7 linked regions of the Homo sapiens genome follow. The protein of the gene in region 6 purifies or fractionates together with the protein of the main gene of each other region. This does not show direct contact. Each region holds a gene or a part of one and is shown on either strand. Other genes may lie near its edges.

Region 1 (3,349 bases), on a different chromosome or scaffold from region 6:
AGTAGACAAACAGGCTTTTATGAGGCCCAACACCCCTCAAGGCAGTTTCTCCCCCTCCAGCCTAGCTTCAGAGGAGCTGTGTCATCTCTGTGTTTGGTCTCAGCTTCCCCTGTTCCTTCTCTGCCAAGGTGCCTCGTGGTGGCCACCATCAGGGAGAAAGAAGTCCAACCAGGCCCTTCCCAGCACACGTGATCCCAGCTGCCCCCACTCTGAGCCAGGAGAAGGCCTGGGAGAGCAGGATGCTTTTTGGATTTCTGTACATTAGAATGCTGTCTGGCACTCTTTGCTCCATGTAGTTAAAAAAAAAAAATCCTACTTTCTTAAAAATTTTTATATTTTTCTTAAAAATCAAATTTTCTTAATAAAGCATAGGACCTCATTTTCACAGAAAATGGTGACTCCTCATAGACAGTGAAACATGGAAATCTCTTTTTTTTTTTTTTTTTTTTTTTTTAAGACTGAGTCTCGTTCTGTCGACCCGGCTGAAGTGCAGTGGCGCGATCTCGGCTCACGACAAGCTCCGCCTCCCGGGTTCATGCCATTCTCCTGCCTCAGCCTCCCGAGTAGCTGGGACTACAGGCACCCGCCACTGCGCCCAGCTAATATTTTTGTATTTTTAGTATAGACGGGGTTTCACCGTGGTCTCGATCTCCTGACCTCGTGATCCGCCCGGCTCAGCCTCCCAAAATGTTGGGATTACAGGCGTGAGCCCCTGCGCCCGGCTGAAACATGGAAATCTGAAATGCTGCTGGTGTGCCTTCCCTCTACAAGGGGAAGGAAGGGGTTCCCCCATGATGGAAATGCCCCACTGGGCATCCAAGTGGCAAAGTGGAGACACACTCAGGGCTGGTGGCACACACAGGCAGGAGGGCTGGCAGGCCACCTGCAGGGAGTCTGTCTGGGCCACAGGCCCAGAGCAGCCAGGACAGGCCATCACAGTGCCACCGTGCTTCCCCAGCTGCACGGGAGCTGTGGGAGGAGGGCAGGAGAGCATCTGAGGTGGCAGAAGGGGTGTGTGGGGAGTACCCCTGGCACAGACTGGTTTGGAGCCATATCACGTGGCCTTGTTCAGAATGTATATGATCTTTACCTGTCGGTTCACAACAAAAAGTAAGCACATCCCCACATACCCATACGAGGGTTCAGAAAATACATGCTACCTCGGTGTACACAGGCCACTGCCATTTCCACCTGCTGCCTAGTGGCCCAACTCCCAGCGGGGCCCAGCCAAGCAGGCTGCTCTCGTCGCCTCATGCTCCGTCCAGCCCGGGAATTATCCTGCTACCAGCGCCTGTCCTCACCAGGCTGGAGACAAGGCCACACCTGCCCTGGAGGGTGAGGAGGAGCGCTCTGCAGGCAAATACCTCTGCGGCCTCCCCGGGTCCACACTCCATGGCCTGGAAGCCACGACTTTCATTTATTCAAGGAAAAATGAGCGCTGACCTTCCAAACAGTTCCTTGATCACACTGCCTCTCACCCTGTGCTCTGTACAGGGGAGCAGGGGCCAGAGGTCTGGTCCTAGCCCCTCAGAAGGTCCCCAAAGAGGTACAGGCTGTGTCAGGTGCCAGGTGTCAACAAGGGAAACTGCTTTGCCTGACACAAGCGTCCATGGCTTCTGGCTTTGGGGCAGGGTAAAGGGAAACTGACGAAGGGGTTGAGGAGTCCAGGGCTCTGGCTGCTAGAGGGGCAGCCTGGGCAAAGTGGCCAGGAAAGATGGCCCATCTCCCAGAACTCCCTCTTGCTGGGGTCCAACTCTTCCACAGTGCGGCCCCTTCTGTCTGCTGACCTTGGAGAAACCAGGCAGCTCATTCCCTTTCCTTGGACCTGGTGCTACCCTGGGAACATTCTTAAGTCCTCCATGTAATTGGGGTGTGGAGCTTAAACATGAGGGGGACCAGCAGGAGGTCCTGGGACTGGGCTCAGGGCGGTTCACCCTGATCATTGACCCTCTGCTCTGTGGGCTTCTCTTGGCAGCTGACTTTCACGGGACGCTCGTGTGTGCCAAAAACTTCAACAAACCTTCAGCGTGGGAGCTTTTATCATCCCCATTTTACAGATGAAGAAACTGAGGCACAGTGAGATTAAGTAACTTGCCTAAAGTTACACAGCTTATCAGTGACAAGCCTAGGCTGTGAGCCTAGGTGGCCTGGCTGCAGTGAGCACACTAAAGCACTGGGTAGTGTGCATCTTGGCTCTGTCCCCATCAAGAATGCCAAAGGAGAGGCCTGCTGGTGTCCCATCCCACTTCCAGCCCTGATGCCCAAACTCAGGCAGCCTGAGGAAAGACTAGGGGATCCCTGTCCTCACCCAGCAGCAGCACCTGCTGTCCTGGTTTAGGCTGCCTGGCCTAGCTGCTCTGAATTAAATGAGCAGAAACTCCTACCTCAGCCACAGTGGGAATGGACAGCCCCCAGGGTCACCCACCCCCTCACATTGTCAGGCCTCATGTGTCACCTCCCCCTGAAAAGCAGTCTCTTACCTGGCTAAACATTTAGGTTTGGAATTATTACAAAGGTCATAAGGATAATTCATGTGAGCCATGAAAACTCAATATTATAGGAACCGAAAGGACATAGTGACAAGAACCTCCTCCTGGATGCACCACGAGAAGCTGCCCCAATCACTTCACTGTCAACGCTTCTTTCACTGGCACTTGTGCCACTGCAGCATTAAGTGATCAGCCCCAAAACATGCTGTGGAACTCGCCTGGGTCACTGCTGGGTGGCCCATCCCCTGAAGACAAGGTTCAACTTTAAACAAGGTACCTCTCTCTCCCTAAATCGGAGTGACAGGAAGCCGGATTGAGGACCCTATGGCCTGGGCACTGTCACTCCTCACCCGATACTGTCCGCCTCCCAAGTCAAGGCCCTCATGGCCAGTGTCAGGAAGCCTCATGGGGTGTGGTCAGCAGGGCTCCAGAAGTTTTATCTTCAAAGTCACATCTGCCGAGGTTCACCTGGGGGCTCATTTCTGAACCCTTTTCCTACTCTGTTACCAGCAATTTCCTGGAAGCCATGGCCCTTCTCAAGAAAGCCTTGGCCTTAAAATCACTTGTTTGCCATCGAATGTATTCTGTTGTTTCTCTAGACCAAGGGTTAGCAAACTACGGCCGGCTGCCCCTTTGTGTAAATAAGGTTTTATGGACACGCCTGCTGGCTTCCGTATGGTCTCTGGCTGCCTTCTGGGTCCAGCGACAGGTTGACAGAGGCTGTATGGTCCACAAAGCCTAAAATCTTTACTGTTTAAATTTGCTGACCCTTGCCCTCGCTCTTCCCTTACTCAAACTCTCACAAAGCACCTCCCCAACGCTGGCCTGTGCCTGGCCCAGGATGATAATACGCAGACTCG
Region 2 (4,156 bases), on a different chromosome or scaffold from region 6:
GTAAAATGTTTTCTAAAATGTTGATTATTACCAAAAACAAAGAGGGTGAATATAGTGAAAATTTACTAGAAATTACAGTTCTGTTAATATGCATTGAATAATGCAGCATAAAATGAAGGAAGGCAATATATATTGCTCTGATGTCCTATAATTCCAAAAGACTTTAGTTAAAATGGATATGTAAAAAGAGGTAAAATTTTAACCCAGGGAAATTTGACTCTTAGAAATAAATTTACGAAGAAGTTGATAGAGAAAAACAATACGAAAATTAAACAAAAGGATGTTATACACTAACCTTTGCAAAGGATTCCTCAGTTGTCTGCAGCTGATCTTCTCTGTCCCTAGAGTCAGGTAAACTGGGGCTGAAGGCCATGAGGTCGGTCTTGGGTGGGCCCTCACCAGAGCACACCCTCGGCCTCCTCTGCTGCGAGTATGACCAGCTCCCCACCGCACTGGAGCACACCAGCGTGGGCTTGCCCGGAGCGCACGCGCCCTCGGTGGGCAGCGCAGAGCACCGCAGCGCGGTGTACAGCAGCAGCGTGAGCACCAAAAGGCTGGACACCGCGCAGATGGCAATGATCAGGTATACGTTGACATCCACCAGCGCAGCATCGGGACCCACAGCGCCCACCAACGCCCGTGAGGAGGCCTTTGGCGCCTGTCCACTCTCCACAAGTGACACCAGCACAGTGGCCGTGGCCGTCAGCGCGGGCTCGCCGTGGTCCTTCACCAGTACCAGTAGGCGGTGGCGCGGAGCGTCCGTTTCGTCCAGGGCACGCGTTGTGCTGATCTCGCCAGTGTACAGCCCCACGCGGAACGGGATGCGCGCGCCACCAGTCCCCGGCTGCAGCTCGTACGAAAGCCACGCGTTGTAGCCCGAGTCAGCATCCACCGCGCGCACCTTTGCCACCACGTGGCCCACACCCACCGACCATGGCACCAGCTCGCTCACTGCGCCACCAGTGCCACCCGCCCGAGGCGCTAGCAGTGCTGGCGCGTTGTCGTTTTCGTCCAGCACGAACACCTGCAGCGTCACGTTGCTGCCCAGAGGTGGCACGCCGGCATCGCGAGCGGTCACCTGAAACTGCAGCAGCTCTAGCTCCTCGTGGTCCAGCGGCTGCAGCGCGTACACCTTGCCGCTCTCCGCATGCACCGAAACGTAGCTCGACAGCGCGCGCTCCCCTACCCGCCGCTCTACCAGCGAGTAGGACACCAGCGCGTTCTCCTGCGCGTCCGCGTCCCACGCAGACACAGTGAAGATGTGGCAGCCCGGCGGGTTGTTCTCCTTCACGAACACTGTGTACTCGGGCTGCGCGAACGCCGGAGCGTTGTCGTTCACATCAGCCACCTCCACAGAAACACTGGCCGTGGCCCACAGCGAAGGCGAGCCCCCGTCTCGCGCGGTCACCACCAGCTCATAGGCTGACACGCTCTCGCGGTCCAGGGCACTGTCCAGCACCAACGAGTAGTAATTCTTGAAGGTGGACACCAGCTTGAAGGGGACGTGGGACGTCAAGGAGCAGGTGACCAGCCCATTGACACCCATGTCTTTGTCGGACACGCTGATCAGGGCGATGACTGTACCCAGTGGAGCGTCCTCTCTAATTGGAAGTGATAAAGACTTGAATTCCAAATCTGGGACATTATCGTTGTTGTCTTCTACTTCCACAATAACTCTACAATGGCCAGAAAGTGGGAGCTGTCCCTTATCAATGCCCTCTACAATAATTTCATAGGATTTGCTTTCTTCAAAGTCAATATATCCCTTTACAATAATTTGTCCAGTAATTGGATCTATGTGAAACTTGGATTTCACATTTGGCGAAATATCATTTGAGAATGAATAAACAATGTCCCCATTCAATCCTTCGTCTAAATCTGAGGCGTTAAGTTTAATTACCAATGTTCCATTAGGAACATTTTCTAGTAATCTCACCTTATAAATGGTTCTGTCAAAAGCTGGGGCATTGTCATTGGCATCCAGTACTGTGATGAGTAACTGAACGGTGCCAGTCAACTCGGGTTTGCCTCCATCAGTGGCTGTGAGCACTAAAAAAATCTCCGGAGCTTCTTCTCTGTCTAAAGATTTCCGTAATATAAGCCCAAGACCTTTTACCAGCTCGTCATCAGGTGGTTTTTCCAGAGAAAAGTATTCATTTGGGCTCAGTCTGTAAGTGAGCAGGGCGTTCTCCCCGATATCTGCATCCGAGGCGCCCTCTAGTGGAAACCGAGAGTCAAGCGGCCTGGATTCCGCGATGGACAGGTTCTTTTGTGTTGCTGGGAACACCGGCGGGTTATCGTTAATGTCCCTCACCTCCACGTCCACATGGAAAACCTGCAGCGGCCTGTCTACGATCACCTCCAGGTGGATGCTGCACTCCGCGCTCCGCCGGCACAGCTCCTCCCGGTCGATCCGAGAATTCACAAACAAAATGCCATTCTGCAGATTTACCTCCAGAAGGCCTCCGCGGCCCTTGGACGCCACCCGGAACAGGCGCGGCACCAGCTCCGCCAGCTCCAGTCCCAGGTCCTGCGCGATGCGGCCCACGAAGGTGCCGTGTTTGGCCTCCTCGGAGACCGAGTAGTGGAGCTGACCGTTCCCTGCCTCCCAGGCTGCGAGGAGAAGAAGTAAGAGCAGCAGACGCCGGGATTCCTGGCCGCTTCCCCAGGAAAACTCCATCTTTAGTGCACAGTATTTTGTTCTGATTAAATATCGTTTCTCAAAGTCAAGGGAAATCTTTTAATCGGTCAGTCAAGTGCAGCTGCATCCTCCATATTTCAGACTCCAAAGAGTGTATATGGTTCCTTCCAGTAAGAATAGAAGGAATTTTCCCTTCTTCCTCCTTCTCTCATGTATTTTGTGGTAAAGAGCGACATCATGTGGCTCCAAACCGTAAGTAGCAATTGTGGAAACCCCCACACACTCTACTGTAAACTACTTGGTTTTATTTATTATTTCAGTCGTTTCGGAGAATAGGAATACATTTTGTACTACTGTGGTACACATTGTACCACTGATTGATTGAGTGTGGTCCTTAGTTTCGCCATAGGGGCAACTTTTACTTCAGTAGAAATAATTTTTTCAACACAGGTTTTAAGTATTACAGAGACCTAACTATACACTTTGTAAACATGTAACTGTAAACTGTTGATTAGAAAAATTCATTACAGATTCCTGTGTTCCCAAGAATTCCAGGGTTTTTTTTTATTAATGATAACACCCTCTTCACCCTAGTATTTCTGGTGTTGTTGACTTGAGGGGACTGGTCTCTAGGGAACTTCTGGTGCCAAGAACAAGCTATTGACAGGGAAATTTGCAGATGTTTTATAAAAGGATCAAAGACCATCAGCATTTAATTAGATGTCTTCCTTGAGTCATGTCAGGGCTGAAAGTGCAAGGAAGCAGGAAGTTATAGCAAATAGCTTGCATGGAAAAGCATTCCAAATAATTTTATTCATTGGAACTCATTTGCTCCCATGAGAAACGCTGGTATTCTCATTTTGACTCTTACAGTTTATAAGTACTTGCTTGTTCTCCAGTATGTAATGTGCCTAAGCTTCTATTTTCTCCTATAGTGCTTATATATTTTAGCCAAACTGAATATTTCCTGCTTCCAATAGCTTTTTTTAATAAACAAGCATGTTCATTTTGTCCTGTCTATAAGTAATCCACATCATTTCTAAACTCTTCTAAAGCCAATTTACCCCATTTTATAACCACTTAAAACTTCCCTGACCCATGAAGAATGTCATGATCAAACCAATTGAACAGGTATTTTTTCTTCTTTTACAAACTGCAGCACCAGGGTGGAATCGCGTGGGCCATTTATTACATTAATTTATCTCTTATAAGCATTTGAGTATGTGTGTCCTTTTTTGGAATATATATTTTAAAGGGAATAGTTGTATCTTAATTGTTTAATAGCTCAGAGGGACTTACCTAATATTTCCTAAATATTTACCCTGCAGAAAATGTTTGCTTCCTTCCATTGCCTAATAAAATGCATTAATTTAAGGTGATCGCATATCTAGTTGGGAAAATGTGGTGTTTCAATAGCCTCTATGATTTTCTAAAGATACAAAAAAAGTCTCTAGACATTTCCCCAATTAAGATGTATTTCAAGTTCAATGTTGAAAACTTGGGTTTTAGCTTAAT
Region 3 (2,167 bases), on a different chromosome or scaffold from region 6:
GCATTTCCAGATGGGCTTGACTCGCTCACCTCACCCAGGTGTTACCAGGCTGGTTGCCCATCCCCCACTCTGCACCCACTCTGCCTGGCCTCTGCACCCTTGACCCTGTTGTATTGCCCCTCTTCCCTGCTGTTTCTCCCTTCCCAGGGCACAGATTCTAGAATCTCTTCATCTTCCCCAACTGTAGCCTTGGAAGCAGTGTCTTGCAGAGGTGGAATTAGATGCACCAAAAAGTTAATCTTGGTCCCTACAGTGCCAACCTGGCAGTCCCCAGTGCTTATGGCTTTGTGTATATCCCCAGTGCCCGGCACAGTGCCTGGCACATAATAGATGCTCAATAAATGGTTGCTGAATTGAAGCAAATTAAGCTGAATCTCCCAGATGATATTGCTGTCTCCCCAAATTGGCAATCTGATGGGCAGAGGCAGGGATTGGTCCCTGAGACTGTCACGGTCCTGTCTCCACCCCCTTTCCTAGACTTATTCCCTACCCTGGGCACCTGACTCCTTGAGTAGGGGTGGGGCAGAGCTCCTGGAAAGGCTGGGAAGTGCTGGGGCAGGGAATGGGGCATTTGCCAGCAGCTGTGCCCTTCACACTTGCTCCCTCCCTCCCTGCTTCCCTCCACTCCTCCTCAGTCCTGGCCAGAGGGGCTGGGCTCCTGGGAGGGGGCAGGGCTAGAGAAGCCCACCCCTCCAACTCGCCCCATCATAGACCAGGACACAGAGGCCCCTCCCACTGGGAAAATGATGGCTCTGTTGCTTCAAACTGGAGACTGAGGAGCCAGAGAAGAGGGCAGGACCCTCAGTTTCTGTCAGTTGGAACCTCAGTTTCCCCATTTTAAGTGAGTGACTTGGCTAGTTGATCTCTGAGGATCTTCCAAGGTCATGGTCTCAGAGTCAGTGTTTCTGCCTCTTGCTCCTTCTCTCAGGCCTAATCAATTTCCATTGAATGTGAGTGTAATGGCAGTGATGGTTGGCTCCGCACAATTGCCTTTTTTTTTTTTTTTTTTTTTTTTTGAGATGGAGTCTCTCTATGTCACCCAGGCTGAATTGCAGTGGCACTATCACTATCTCAGTTCACTGCAACCTCTGCTTCCCGGGCTCAAGCGATTCTCCTGCCTCAGCCTCCCAAATAGCTGGGATTACAGGCACACGCCACCACGCCCAGCTAATTCTTGTATTTTTAGTAGAGATGGGGTTTTGCCCATTTCTACTAAACAGATGGAGGTAATCCACCCGCCTTGGCCTCCCAAAGTGCTGGGATTACAGGCGTGAGCCACTGTGCCTGGCCTACAATTGTCACTTTTGTCCCCACGAAGGGAGTTGTTGGGAGAGGAGCGAGTAGTGTGGCTGCAGATGGGACAGGGCTGGCATTGGCAGCTCAGGTTCCAAGGCCTCCCCTTATGCCGGCCTCAGGCTTTCCCTTCCCTCTCTGTAGCCAAAAGCCAGGTGGAAACCCCACCAAGGGCAACTGGGAGAGTTCTCACTGAAGCCCCAAAGAAAGCTGCCCCACCCTGTGCATGGCCTCCTCATTTCCCAGCCTTGGCTGCCCCTGCCCAGGCGAGGGTGGTTACCCCATGGAGAAGGCAGAGCCTGCAGCAACCTGCATTCACCATGGAGCCCCACCCCTCAGCCCCTCAGCTGACTTTGAAACTGGCCTCTGTTGGTGGGTCCCCGCTGGGAAACATGGCCCCCTACCTGGAGCTGCTCTTCCAGTCTGGCCTCATCCACAGTCCTAAGGGATTAGGAGCCAACGGGAGCCCCAAGGAGGCCACTAGCAATGGAAACGAGGGCCCAACATGGCCTCCTGGGCCAGGGCACATGTCCAGCTTTGCCTGCAGCCCTGGCTTTCCGTCAGTGCCCTGGAATGCACAGTCATCCCTTTAACATGCCCCTCCAAGTTTCAGGAACTCATCGTCACCTCCAGCCTGATGGCTGCTCTGGGCTGGGAGCAGGGGAGGAGCACAGCCGTGCCAGGCCAAGGCCCTCCTGAGGGAGCGCTGTCAGCACAGGAAAGCCCTCCCTCCCCACCAGGTCCTCTCTGAAGCCACTGCCAGGCCAAGCACTGGGCAGGTGGACAGCGGCCCCCTCCTCTACCCCTGCCCACCCACTCCCTTCTCTCTGGGGACCCTCACATGTGCCTCCTGCCTCCCCCCAGGGACTGGCAG
Region 4 (3,500 bases), on a different chromosome or scaffold from region 6:
GAGAGAGGGGGAAGGGAGAGACGGCGTTAGAGACAGCTTCCACGATGCCCCTCCTGATGCTGCTCCTTACCCCCCAGTCTAGCCCCGTGAGGGCCCCAGTTGCCAGGTAAGGCTCCCCAAGCAGGAGGCAGGGCCTGCGTTCCAGGCCAGCCGCCACGGAAGCATCCACCTGCCCCACCCACCCCTGAGAGCAGAGGGCAGCTCCGTCCTCACCTGGAACATCTGGATCATGTCCTCGCAGTTGCGCTGCTGAGCCACATCGCAGAGCTTGGCGGTGATGTCGATGCGGCGGCAGATGTCCATATCCACCTTCATGGCTTTCTCCTGGATCTTGGTGTCCAGCTCCGACAGGTTCTGTCCAGGGAGCCCAGGGAACAGTGAGGAGGCGCCCAGTTCTCCAGACAAGGACGAATTAGGCCTGGCAAGGTCCTCATCCTTCCCACCACATTGCACCGGTGCCTCTTCTGTGGAGTCTCCCTGAGCTGACTGCACCCCTCTTCCTGGGTAGCGGTGGCCTCCCCACAGCACTGTGTGAATATGCTGGGCATGGGGCGGCTCGGGCCACTGCTCCCTGGCCAAACGGAAGCCCTGGAGGGCATGGCCAGTGCCTGGGACATGCAGGGGGCTCACTGGAACGACTAGCGGTCCTCATCCTCCTAGAACTTACATTCCCAGAGAGAAAGAGACTCCTGGGAATTATAAGAGTGGAGAAAGGACTATAATAATCGCAACAGCTAACACTCTTCCAGCTAACACTGCATGCTGGGCACTGTCCCGAGTACATGACCACCCTCACAATACTCCTGCAGAGCGCACGCGTTTATTTCCCCACGCCAAAGGTGAGGCCTCAGAGGCTGAGGAATCGGCCCAGCGCCCCGGCGCCAGCTGCAGAGCCTCCACCCCAGAAGCTGCTCACTAACTGCTCTGCAACCCCAGGCCCTCAGAAGCTGCGCCACCTCTGTGACGCAACACCGAGACTTTTGTTGCTTGTCTTTCTCTGGAGTTAGGGGTGGCTAGGGGAAAAAGGGAAGGAAAGCAAAGAGAAGGGGAGGAGCCGTGGACGGGAGGCCAACAGGCCAACACTAGAAGGGCCTACTCTTCTGGCCTCAGAAGCCTCACTTCGACCCTCGGGAAGCCTGGGGCTGCACTCACGTTACTCATGAGCCCCTTGAAGACCACCAGCTCAGCCTTCAACTGTTCCACCTTCAGTGCCAGCTCCTCCTGGCAGGCATCAGCCTCCTGGGCTTCCTGCAGTTGGGAGAAACCCTGATGTTGGTGGCACTGCCGAGGTGGGAGGAAGATAAAGATGCCAAGGAGGGACAGGGAGACGGCAGCAGGGTCATGGGCAGACAGGGGTACCCAGGGAAGCACCAGCAGCAAGTGGGGCGCCACCCTCACCTCCTGGAGCTCATTTACACGGTCTTGCAGCTGGATCCGCACCGTGTACTCCTCTTCCCACCTGACAGACATGGGAAGGGCGGAGAGAGCTTAGGTACAGAGTCCTTCCCTGCCCCCATGGCTCCCTGTCCCCACCTCTCTGGCTCAGGCCTCAGACCCCAGTTCTGGTTCCCTGGATGGGGAGGAGCAGGGCACAGGAATGCCTGGCCAGCCAGCTGGTGACCAACTGCAGCTGTCACGCGGCTCTGTGCTTCCTGATGGGCGTCGAGCTCGCCAGCTGCCTTCCCGGAACCTCCGGGCTGTGCACCAGGAGCTCTGTTTGGGCAAGTGCTGAGGCTCCGGTCCTCCGTGATGCCCATCCCTGCTCAGGCCCCAGCTCAGCCAGCTGTCCGGCTGGCCTCATTGCCCACCTCCTGCCCACACCAGACCACCAGGTCCACCCGGCCCAGTCTCCCACCTTCAGTCGCACAGATCCGGGCTCCCGCCTCCTGCCCGCACCAGAACAGAGCTCGTCGAGCCCGCTGCCCTGCCTCTTGTGGTATCATTTAACCCTGTAAAAGCATCTGCAGGACACATAGTGTATCAACAGAGTGGGTCAAGAGCCTGGTAGGAGACACTCAAAGTCCTTCCCCACTAGCTCCAGAAACTACCCACCCAGAGCCTCCTCTAAGGGAGTCACAGAGAGGTGACCAGACTGGCTCAGAGGCCGGAAGTCCCACAGCAGCATGACAGCAGTGGACACACGAGCCTGGGGTTACTAGCACTCAAACCCAGAGGGAAAGAGAAAGTAGAGTATGTAAAGGGGCCCGGTGAGTACGGCAAATGAGAACTAGACACAGCCTGTTCCAGGGCCCAGAATTCAGAGATTAAGACTGCAAGTGGGCCGGACGACACCCTGGGCCACAGGGCAGGGTCCTAGGTAGGGCATGCTTCCCAGAGCCAGCTTTGTCATGTCTCATCAGCCATGGCAGGCAGTGCATATTCTATTCCATCACAGAGATGGAAGCCAGGGCAACGTGCTGCTTAGGACCCGCCCGGCATTCCAGGGCCCTGCAGTCTAGCTGGCGTAGCAGCACATCTCAAATCCTGTTCCTGTGAGCTCATCACTTCTGTCAACCCGAGAAGGGAGGGGAACTGCACCAAGAGAGAAACTTCAACACAAGAAAGGTGGTTAGGAAGGGGCCAAGAAGACAGCAAGAAAATTAAAATCTGAGTGGGCAGCTTCTGAAGCCTTGGGTGAAGCCCTTTCTTCCCCTTCCCTCCATCTTCCTTCCTGTGTCAGCCTCTGGGTCCCATCTCCTCATTCACAGCCGCACTGCAGTATTCCTAATAATAACTCCTCCACATCACCTCGACTGCCCCTCCCTGCTGGGCAGAGCAGGAGGAGGCAGCCAGCCCAGCCACCACCCTGCTGGCTCCCCACACAGCCCAGCTCCCAGCCTTCCTGGCTCCCAGCCCCCTTCCCTGTGTGTCCCGTAGGTGCTTCTCCCCTCCTCCCTGGCATTCTCATGCATACAGTCAGGCCACTAAGGGAACCAGTCGCATCAGATTATGTTTTCTTAGCTAAGACCCTTATCTTTTCTGGGTCTTGGTTTCTTCATCTATGATGTGAAGGCATGAACTGTGGTGCCCTCATGCGCCGGGAGCCCACGAGTCCCTGGAGGGAGACAGTAAGCCTGTCAAGGGCACGCTAACCCTGGACAAGATGTGTGAAAGAGGGCAGGAGGGGCTATCTGACAGTGAGCTCAACAGAGCCTGGAAGAAACTTAAGTAAGGCAGTTATAGCTAAAGGTTAAGCCTAAGGAAATCTTACAGGGTAAAAAAAATCTACAAATGAATCATCTGGAAGCCCACTACAGTTCTATTTGTTCTTTGGCCAGACTTCACACAGACAGGTTCATTTTCACCTCCATTTCCATCTGGTCTCACTTATAAGGTTCCCTTAACATGGGCAGAATTTGAGAGCGATATCCATGTGTTCTGCATGGACCAAATATCTCTCTTCCAAAAAACTGTATCCCTGGGTTGAAGAGAGAAAGCAGGGACCATTCCTATGTTGGGAAAATGGGGGCTCAAAAAAAGGTCACGCACAAGGCAGGGGA
Region 5 (3,500 bases), on a different chromosome or scaffold from region 6:
TTTCCATGTCTAAACTCATCCCTTCTCTTGGCGTTAAATACCATGTATATGCAGACAACTCCTAAATTATTATCTCTTGCCCGAGCCTCTCCTTAAAGGTACATTTCCTGTATTCATCTTCCATCCCCACCTAGATGTCTCATGGATATCGCTAAAGTACCATGTCCAAATAGAACCCTGAAATGTGTCTTTCCTTCTGCCCCTCTCTGAGTGTTCCCATCTCATCAGCACCACCATCCACTGGCTGGCCTAAGGCAGAATACTGAGTATCAACTTTAATTTCTTACTTTCCTTCACTGCCAACCTACAAACCAGGAAATCTTTTAGTTAAAAATTTATCTAAAATTCACCCATTAGTCTAATGCAACCATCATTATCACTCCATAAACTACTGTAACAGCTTCCTTCCAAGATCCAGCTTTCCCTCTGGCATCTCTCAAATTTATTCTCCCATGCTACCAGAGTGGCCTTTTTAAACCCTAATGGTCATATTATTCCTCTCTTAAGATCCTTTACCCGCTTTCCATTGTGTTTTGCATAAAATCTAAATTTTTCACCTTGGCCTACAAGACCTGCCTGATCTGGCCCCTGACAAAGTCTTTACAGTGTTAACCACCATCGTCATTATTGCTATTATCACAATCATCTTGATTCAGAACCATTTCAGCTATTTCACCATTGGTTAATAAATGAACAACTGGAGCCTCATTATCAGTGTTAAAAATTTCTTCAATATCAACTTCTTCCAACTTACTGGTGGACTCTGAAGGTACTTTTTTTTGCGTATGTATGGTCAGACATCTTTTTTTTTTCTCATTTGACATACAGAATCATTCAAAGTCACTTTATTTATAATACTTACTGAACATAGTTGCAGGACAGAGGTTATGCCAGGTATGCACAACTGTCTTTAGTTACTGCATTACAAGCATTGGCAACAGCATATACAACATCCTTTATGCGAAACACCCACACCTATGTTCACTGCTGATAACATACTGTTTACGAAAATGTTTTATATTTACACTGATTGATCTAAGGACACCATTCTCACATGGCTAAATTAATAAAGTCACATTTGGGGAAAAGCACATGGAATAAGTATTACTTTTGATGAGAATTTTAGCTGAAGAATAAGCATAAAAGTTGTCAAGGAATAACAAAATCTTGCAGCCTTCATCCAGTCCAGCTTCCCTGCAGTGAGCATGAGCCATTGCTACAAAATGTTGTGAAAACAATCACAAAAGATGTCCCTGGTGACCCATGCCTTTTGTTAGCATGATAATGGACTAGTAAGAAATTTACTCTTTGAAAATAGTGAGAATTCAAGCTTTTGCCTATTACAGCAGGTTTACATTTGTGTGTGCCTGCTGCATTAGCACATCCCAGCGCAATTATCCTGTCCTTGGTATCCTGATTGCCCACAAGGCCTGTCTCATCGGCTGAAGTCAGTGTCTTTCTGAAGCAATAATGCCAAAACAGTGATGTTTCATCAGCACTATAGACTTGATCTAGTGTGAGAATTTTTATCAGTGATGATCTTGGCAAACTCATCAATAAATTTCTCTGCTGCTTTCTGATCAGCAGATGTTTCGTCACTACAAATATTTGAAAATTTAATGCCATGTTTTTTCTTAAATTTATGCCAAAGAACTACGCATATTCGCAGTTCTTTTAAATTTTCAGTTCATCGTGATAGATCTTTTCCTGTTTCATGATCAGCATACCATTAAGTGGCATGTGTTCTTTGTGATACTGATGGATCCACTTTCTCAATACACAATTGGGATCTTCATTTGTAGCTTTGTGGAATGTTTTTTTACATTTTTCATTAACTTCAGCATAGGACTTAAACAGTTTATCCTTCTATTTCTTTGAGTCATATATGGTGGTCATTTCAACACCATACTCTTTTTTTATTGTTACTTTTTTGAGATGGAGACTCACTCTGTTGCCCAGGCTGGAGTGCAGTGATGTGATCTCAGCTCACTACAACCTCTGCCTCCCAGGTTCAAGCAATTTTCCTGCCTCAGCCTCCCAAGTAGCTGGGATTACAGGCACATGCCTCCACACCCAGCTAATTTTTCTGTTTTTAGTAGAGACAGGGTTTCACCTTGTTGGCCAGGCTGGTCTCAAACTCCCAACCTCAGGTGATCCACCTGCCTCAGCTTCCCAAAGTGCTGGAATTACAGGCATGAGCCACTGCGCCTGGCCTCAACACCATACTCTTCTATCAGACATTTTATACCTATACCACTGTCCAATTTATCCAAAAGCTTGACTTTCTGTGTTATAAGTATACATAAATGCTTCCTTTTTTTTTCTTATCACTGTTACCCATAAGTATCTGCAGACCTTTTTGATATTTTCAACAGTATATTTACATCACAGAGTAGAGAAAAAGCAAAACAAAAACAAAATAAAAAAAAACCCCAAAAAACAAAAAAAGACACACACAGAGAAATACACACAAATCTTGGCCCCATGGAGGCAGAGTGGCAAATCTGCTATAGGCTCATTCATCCTGCACAGGTGCCATTTTTTACCCTTTGTGGACTTGCTTTCATGGGAAAAACTGGGTGTTCAAGAAAAAGATATATCACAGCCGAAAGGGGCTGGGAAATTCTTTTTTCTCTTGTTAATTCTGAGTAAACTGTGCATTGTGTACCTGCATTTTGACTGTGACCCATCACATGAGGTCAAGTAGGAAATTTTCTACTTGTTTCATGTTTGTGCTCAAAAATTTGGAGTTTTGGAGCACTTCCACTCAAATTTTCAGATTAGGGATGCCCAACATATATGCGTGTATATATATATATGTATATATGTGTATATATATATGTATATATGTATATATACATATATATATACATATATACACCAGGAACTAGAAGATGCCTGAAACATAGTATGTACTCAATAAATATGGTTGATTAAACAAATGGATGGGTGAATGAATAAATAAATAAAGGTATACACATTTTCAATCCTGGTGTCTTTTCATATGTGAAAGTTATCATTTTCTCTCTGAACTTTTGTGACTTAGCACAACATTTTAATTTGTAAAATTACTTTCAATATACAAGGAAAGAATTAGAAAACCAGTTGGGATGAAAACGCCTGATGCTCTTCTTGCATATGTTGTTGAATACCAAAATCTTGCTAGGAGTTCATACATAAACAAGGTAGATGGAGAGAGCTGGGAAGATTGTGAGAATGCAATTTTTTCCCCATTGTCTCTGCCTAGCCTTTCTCATATCACAGAATGACACGATGTTAAATGTGAAACCAGATCTCATTCAGCTCTCTTGTTTTGTAATATTAAAACTGTGACTCAGAGAGGTTAAATGACTTCCTCTCAAATCCCTTGAAGTTCCTGGCACAATCAGGTCTAAAATATAGGATTGCTTGACTTTCAGTCCAATGGCCATTCAATTAGTCACATCTCTATTCCTGTATTCCCTGACTTCTCCTCCTCAACTGTACCAGCTTTTCCAATA
Region 6 (3,500 bases):
ATAAACACACATACATACACACATAATGATTCTTATTAAGCAAAATGATAAGTGCTATGTCAAACTTATGACCTCAGTGTCGAGAGAGTTGGAGAAGCTTCCTTGGGATGGTCTTGAGGATGAACAGTAACCAGGTTAATTTCTCTCATAACATATTAAAGACATGGATTGCATACTGCATGTCCTAGAAGGAAACCTTATATGGCTGGGAAACTATAAAATGAAGAATCATAAATAAATATAAAGATAAAAATGTAAGGAAGAAAAAGGATTCTTGCCAACAATGCAAAACAGAACAGCTGTGAGCCAGTGTGCCCAACTCAAAAGACAGTAGGTGATAGGCTGTTCTTTGGAACCTGTTTCATTTATTCACTGGGTAGGAATTTCTGTTTTCTTTCCATATGTGTCACTTACTTTACACTGAGCACAAAGGAAAAATGTGATTATCACTGTATCTTTGATATAATTCCATTCAAATACCTCTCTCTATATAATGGTTTTTTACATACTGAAATTATATATTTTTCACGAAGTGTTTTTGTCAATTTCTCAACTACTCTAGTGGAATCACTGTCTTCAAAGACAACCTTTGCCTTAGCACTTGAGCAGGACCAAATGTTAAAACAAATAAATGGCTAGGAAAAAGTTACGATATGAGAAAATATGACCTCGAATGGCTGGAAAATGTATGATTATGCAAAAGATTTCTATGCCGCAGGACAATTTCAAAATGTTTAATGTTTAAAATAAAATTTTTTTATCCATAAAGGACCTCTAGGATATTGTAAATCATTTTCTTCTTCCAGAATTCCATTAAACAATAAAGGCCATGTTTTAAAGGGCAAGAGTGTTGTGGTAAGAGGAGGTGACTCTGCCATTAGCAGCGGATACAAAAGTGGCATGTGCAACTGCTTCTCTCCAGCCCCCGTTTGGAGAGAATGAGCGGTCAGCTGCAGGCACGGTGAACTAATTACATAGCTGTTCCTTCCCTACCACAGACATTTGGTTAACCACAGGACTTCTTTGGATACTCCTAGGGTACTCCTGCCCTGACATTGTTCAGGAGAAGAAAAGGCAATAGGAATTAGAACAAAAATTAGAATTTTGATTGTCTTGTTTTCTTTTCTAAATTAATATTTTTAGGCACAAAGTGAAATAGATATAAATGTATGCTTAAAGGGCACCAGAAGACCTATAAATAGAAATTGCTAGAAGTACCACTAAATAATTTAATACCAACTTCAATAGCCACTCTTTCCTTCAGCTAAGAAAATAAACTGAGGGGTGGAGGGGGAGTATGTGCTTCAGAGGACACTGTGGGCAAGATCCCAGTGAGATTCAGAATCAGCAGAACCCCAGTGTCGTGGACAGGCTTAGTGATTTCAGAACTGCTGTGTGATCAGTGTAGGCACTGAGACCATGTGGTCACAGTGGGGAATTAATTACCTGTAGGAAACCACCTCGTGCCCATGACCTGGATTCCTAAGGGGGCTGGATGTCAGGTACTTCCCTCACCATGATCCCTCCAGATGGCACCCTGCAACTACTTTCTCTTTCCTGCACTGGTGCCAGTGAGGAGAAGTTAGGATTCTTAAAGAAATCCTGAAAATACGTCATTATCTCTCTTTGCAATTGGACTTTACGGCAAATAACTAGTATTCCCAAACCTGGTCTATAGGTCCCTTCTTGAGCTCTTTTTGTTATTTATGCTAGAATGGCAGGCACTTTTATCACAAGAACAGTTTTTAAACCCATGGAGTATTTGTGTATTTTTGATTTCAGTGACCTCAATGGCTTTAATTTTGAATATGAATTGATAGAACTTTCAGTAATAAGGCAGTTGAAAAGCCCTCTAGTCCCCAGTTGATGCCTGTCATGAATATAAATGTTAGAGTAATGCTATTTAAATGTTTTGACTGACCCTCGAAAAACACTTTCAACCAAATGTGATGCTAAAAGCTGAGGTACAACAAATAATTGCAATTGTGGCAAGAAACCAAACCAAACGAAATAAAACCTTGAAATTTTAATTTTAATTTAAAAAGTGGGTGGGGGAGACCATGACATAACAGTAGAACAATATTTGCCAAAGATAATGATCACAGATATGATTAATTATGATAGTGCCTCCGCCTGTCTTTTCTGTACCCATGATCCACAGGACTGGAGCCATCCCCAAGGTGAGTGTCAGGATGTTTTGAAACTGGGACACACTGTACAGGGGTGAACAAAGGAATCTGCTTTTCAATACCACACTGCCTGCTGCAACCAAATGTCACTGCAGGGCTTAACAGTGAGTAAATGCTGTGTGTGTAAATGCTTCTTCTATGTTTAAAAAACAGGAAACAAGAGGCCTTTGAGCATAAGTTAGTAATAATGACTGATGAGTTTAATTTACCTTAAGGGAAGGGACCCAGAAAAGTTTGGCTTATTAGACAACATGTCTTAAGAAAAAAGGATGCCAAATAACATTTTGAATAATGCAGTTTTTTGAAAGGTGGAAGCTCACCCCTGCCTCTGGATGCTATGCATTTTGAGCAGGTGTTAGCGGCAGTAGCAAGGGTTAAAGGACAATACTTTCCATCTTTCAGGACCCATAAGGGAACATATTAAAATAAAAAACAAAAACAAGCCTCTCTCCTACAGCACTCTCGTTTTGGCCATCTCCTGCTCGGCTGCCACTCTAATTGGACTTGAAGTGCTGCCTCCAGGAAAGTGACTCAAGAACCAGCTGGAGCAGAATGCAAATAAGCTGGTAGGGGAGAGAGCCCAGGGAAAGAAGATGAAACAAAAAGAAAAACAAAATTAAGGAGGAAAGGGGAAGAGGAGAACAGAGACCATCTGAGTATAGTTCACACTTTTTTTTTTTAAACAAATAAGAGGAGGTTCTAGTACATCATCAGGTTTTTAATAAGCAATCTGGAACCCCAGTAAGGGACAAATAAGACACTATTTACAAATAACTTTCTTTAAGCCAAGTGTACCTGTAAAACAAAGTTAAATGTACAGGTGCCTAAGAATGAAGTTCATAAAATGTAAAAGGTAAAAAGAGCCATATTAATGGTAACGTTTAATCTCTGTTTTTATGCTGTGGCTACTACAAGCATATTTTCCAAATGAAGGCTCATTTCTATGGTCTAATGGTCCCAGGAATATTATTTGGAGATGAAAATGACTAACTGCTGCATCAGTCAATTTGCAATGAAACAGGCTCTTGAAAGTTTAGGTTTGTGTTACCTGTTCCTTTTTTGAAAGTGTGTCAAGTCTGAGGGAGCACCTGACAACCACTGACTTGATACAAGCAGTCTGTCCAGGTCCTTTCCTCCATGTAGAAATAATGAAGCAAGACACACTCCCGGATACACACAAGAATAAATATTGACATTAACATTTATCTTTATAAGTGGGGAGGATCTGGCAAATTGCTATGAAGAATTCATTTCAGTAACTATTTGGACTAGTAAAGCTAACAGCTTTGAAAGGCTTAAAAATGATTTTAC
Region 7 (3,500 bases), on a different chromosome or scaffold from region 6:
CTCTTACTAATGTCATATGATAGAGGGCAAGCTCCATGAGAGAAGGGGTCTGTCCACATCTTGTTTCCTGCAGTGCTATCTTCCCAGTACAGGGTGGGTACAAATGCCTACTGAATATGGAAGAAAGAGTAATATAAAGGATTAAGGAACACATAGTAAATGAAAACTAGAATTACCAACCAGATATCAGTTCTTATTCTTATTTTCCAGATGTAAAAAGAGAGGCACTTTGACCTACCCAGGAGTAGCGAAACTGGAGATAGAAAGCCTCTTGATCCCTTTTTTACCTCTTCTAGGCTTGGTTTATCTCCCAGGATCCTTCCAGATCCTAACCTTCCAGGAGCATTCCCTGACCTCCACCACCTCACCGCTGAGGGTCAAGTGCCCCCGCTTGGTGCTCCCGCAAAGTCTTCTCTCTCATAACACTTGTTACACTGAATTGTAATTATCTGTTAATCGTGTGTAAGCTCCTCCTGGAGGGTGGGAATCCTGCCTTATTCACACTCACCCCTAGTAAAACTAGCACAAAGCCTGGTATATAGCAGGCAGTCAGTTAAGTGCTCCTGAGATGGGGGGAAAAAAAGTTTCCTCTGCCCCTGAACCATTTCTCCCTCCAAAGACCCAGGAATATCCTTCAATTAGAGCAGAATTTCAGAATCAGGGCAGTTAAGGGTTGGTCAAAGAGAACCACCTAGGCATAGGGGAAGAAAATTTAGTAGAACAGATCGATATAAAGTCTAATCTAGAGCATTGTTTAGACACATAAGTTAATGAATATAGGGAAACTTGCTATAACAGGAATGGTTCACAGTAGCAATCTCAGCATAGCAAATCCTAAACTCTAAGAGACATAGCACACATAATGGCCATAATGAACAAAATTTCCTTCAACCAACAGCTGGAAATCCCACCCATGGCCAGGTATTATTAGTCAAAATTTTTTCTTTTAGAGAAAAATGCTGGTTTTGAAAACATTTTCCTTTATTTTCATAATACAACAAACACAGCTTGCCCTGCCTCATGCAGGCTTATTGCACGTTTGTTTTAGCACTGGACTAAAGTTAAGGGTCTGCCCTGTCATTATATCACTTTTTTAAAACAGTATCACAAAAATAAAATAAATTATAACCTAAATCCATGAATGTAGTAAAATAGTTCTCTTTCATTTCTGGAAAAAAATAATTACAATTTTACATGGACTTCAGGGTTAAAGTTTCTATAGCACTGATTAGATGACAGGGACATGCAAGTATTAAGACAATATTCTTTGGCCCAGCCCCACAAGTTGATAATACAACAACAACACTACTTTGAAATCATACTAACCTGCTAAAAAATGCCAAAGAGTTTAAATAAAATCATCACCACCACCATGCCACCCCTCCTCCTCTCCTACCAAAAATGTATCCTAAAATAAAGTATACTAACCTTGGGCTTCTCCAACTTAATTAACTTAATTTATTAAACATGCCAAACATAAGTTCCCTTGCAGAAGATAAAACAAACTGCTGGGAAGATCATTCATTAAATTGAATTCACAAGGTAATTGAAAGAAATTCAGCCACCTTCTTTTTCTTTTTCTTTTTCTTAAGTTTTTTGAGATGGAGTCTCACTCTGTCTGCCCAGGCTGGAGTGCAATGGCACAATCTTGGCTCACTGCAACCTCTCCCTCCTGGGTTCAAGTGATTCTTCTGCCTCAGCCTCCTGAGTAGCTGGGATTACAGGCGCCCAGCATCACACCTGGCTAATTTTTTGTATTTTTAGTAGAGACAGGGTTTCACCATGTTAGCCAGGCTGGTCTCAAACTCTTGACCTCAGGTGATCCACCCGCCTCAGCCTCCCAAAGTGCTGGGATTACAGGCATGAGCCGCCGTGCCCAGCCTCTTCTTTTTCCTGTCTGTCTCCTGGGTACCCTAGCATCTCCAGATTCAACAGCAATTCAAAGACATCCAAGTCAGTTCCACCTCTGACATGCAACTGAAAACCAGTGTATATCCTCCTGTGACACAGAGGTACTGGGGAGCAAGTGTGAACCTATAAAGCTCCTGAATACCTCTCCCAAATGGATCCCACAGAGTGAAGATAATGAGTTAAATGCTTTAGCTCTAGGGATTTAAAATATATAGAAAGCAAGTTACTTCTACTGGAAGTTAAACTTAAAGAATTCTCATGGTTATGTCATCTCTCACTGCAGTACCGAGTGTGCTACTTGGCTTCCCTCTCTCCTTCCATCTACTGCCTTGCCCTATCATTTACAGAGGCATTAATGCCGGTTTCAAACTAATAATAATTCTTTTTCTTCTGTGCTGCAAATACCCAATCACTGTGGTTAAATACCATGTATAACATAAACAGGGTCAAGAATGCCAGCTGCCAGAAGAGTCATGTTTAAATTAGCATTAACCAGCAAGCCCTTCCCTAAACAAAAAAGAGAGGGGAAAAAAAATGTTTTCTTGGACAGCTCTGTGCCTGCAGAATGACTTCAACCCCACATGTTCAAAAGGCTCCACAAGGTCCAGCTATAACACAATAGCATCATTAATTTTTACTAAATTAAATTTCTCAAAAGTATAAAGCACTATCAATTTGCGGAGAGTAGGGAGGAAGAAACTACTTATTAGTTTATTCTACAACCTTTATATAATTTGAGTAAACAGGCAATAGTGTCTTAAAACGTAGCAGCCATAAGTTACACGGATTGTAATGGAATAAAAGCCCAGTCCTCCATCCATCATCGCACCCCTCACTCTGCCCCAATATGTGTTACTCAGTGTCTTTCCACATCTTGAGGTTATGTAATACTTCCTCCTTGCCTCCCTATCCCCATGTAGCATAACTCCTTAAAATAACATCAGAGGTCCCCCACAATTTGTCCCTTCGTAACTTTCCAGCCTTCATCACCCCACACTCTCACTTTGTCTTCATTCCCCCACCATTCATCTTTTAAAAGATATGTTATTCTTCAAGCCACATTTATAAATTCGTCCCCTGAATCAAAACGTAATTCTCCATTCCCTGGCATGCCAAAGTTCTTGGACTCTACAGCTACCACCCAGTTACACAACACTGCATATACATATTCGGTATGAACCGTGAGGCTCACTGCATCTTTCCCCCCTGTGTTGCAGTTCTTTCTGGAGCTTCCTTTTCACCATCCTTGCATCTACCACATGGAAGGAATTCAATAATTGTTTGCTGAAATAGAATTACCTCCTTTTCTCTCAACTTTCTAAGACATCCATAATAGTTTTCCCTAAGATTTTTTTTTTTAAGAGACAGAGTCTCTCTGTCACCCAGGCTGTAGTGCAATGGCACAATCACAGCTCACTGCAGCCTTGAATCCTGGGCTGAAGCCATCCTCCCTCCTCCGCCTCCCAAGTAGCTGAGACTACACGCACATGCCACCATACCCAGCTAATGTTTCTATTTTTTTTATAGAGACAGAGTCTCACTATGTTGCCCAGGTTGGTCTCAAACTCCTGGCTTCAAGCGATCGTCCT

Evidence for each region.
Region 1: the proteins of COG5 (region 6) and POC1A purify together in Homo sapiens (co-immunoprecipitation; one large-scale study listed by IntAct). This does not show direct contact.
Region 2: the proteins of COG5 (region 6) and PCDHA4 purify together in Homo sapiens (affinity purification with mass spectrometry; one large-scale study listed by BioGRID and IntAct). This does not show direct contact.
Region 3: the proteins of COG5 (region 6) and SCN2B purify together in Homo sapiens (co-immunoprecipitation; one large-scale study listed by IntAct). This does not show direct contact.
Region 4: the proteins of COG5 (region 6) and IFFO1 purify together in Homo sapiens (affinity purification with mass spectrometry; 2 studies listed by BioGRID and IntAct, with this or other methods). This does not show direct contact.
Region 5: the proteins of COG5 (region 6) and ANKRD22 purify together in Homo sapiens (co-immunoprecipitation; one large-scale study listed by IntAct). This does not show direct contact.
Region 7: the proteins of COG5 (region 6) and LPAR1 purify together in Homo sapiens (co-immunoprecipitation; one large-scale study listed by IntAct). This does not show direct contact.

Annotation. Positions count from the first base shown.
Region 1 is NC_000003.12:52,078,075-52,081,423, forward strand, and holds part of POC1A (POC1 centriolar protein homolog A), read right to left. Parts: intron 1-3,349.
Region 2 is NC_000005.10:140,805,712-140,809,867, reverse strand, and holds the start of PCDHA4 (protocadherin alpha-4 isoform 1 precursor), read right to left. Parts: upstream 2,801-4,156; 5' UTR 2,681-2,800; coding exon 296-2,680; coding exon of another isoform or gene 284-295; exon of another isoform or gene 1-283. UniProt on the Homo sapiens protein: Calcium-dependent cell-adhesion protein involved in cells self-recognition and non-self discrimination. Thereby, it is involved in the establishment and maintenance of specific neuronal connections in the brain.
Region 3 is NC_000011.10:118,164,473-118,166,639, forward strand, and holds part of SCN2B (sodium channel regulatory subunit beta-2 precursor), read right to left. Parts: 3' UTR 1-2,167. UniProt on the Homo sapiens protein: Regulatory subunit of multiple voltage-gated sodium (Nav) channels directly mediating the depolarization of excitable membranes.
Region 4 is NC_000012.12:6,549,543-6,553,042, forward strand, and holds part of IFFO1 (non-homologous end joining factor IFFO1), read right to left. Parts: intron 1,962-3,500; exon of another isoform or gene 1,856-1,961; intron 1,460-1,855; coding exon 1,399-1,459; intron 1,249-1,398; coding exon 1,153-1,248; intron 355-1,152; coding exon 214-354; intron 1-213. UniProt on the Homo sapiens protein: Nuclear matrix protein involved in the immobilization of broken DNA ends and the suppression of chromosome translocation during DNA double-strand breaks (DSBs).
Region 5 is NC_000010.11:88,845,345-88,848,844, forward strand, and holds part of ANKRD22 (ankyrin repeat domain-containing protein 22), read right to left. Parts: intron 1-3,500.
Region 6 is NC_000007.14:107,231,921-107,235,420, forward strand, and holds part of COG5 (conserved oligomeric Golgi complex subunit 5), read right to left. Parts: intron 2,293-3,500; exon of another isoform or gene 2,162-2,292; intron 1-2,161.
Region 7 is NC_000009.12:111,031,971-111,035,470, forward strand, and holds part of LPAR1 (lysophosphatidic acid receptor 1), read right to left. Parts: intron 1-3,500.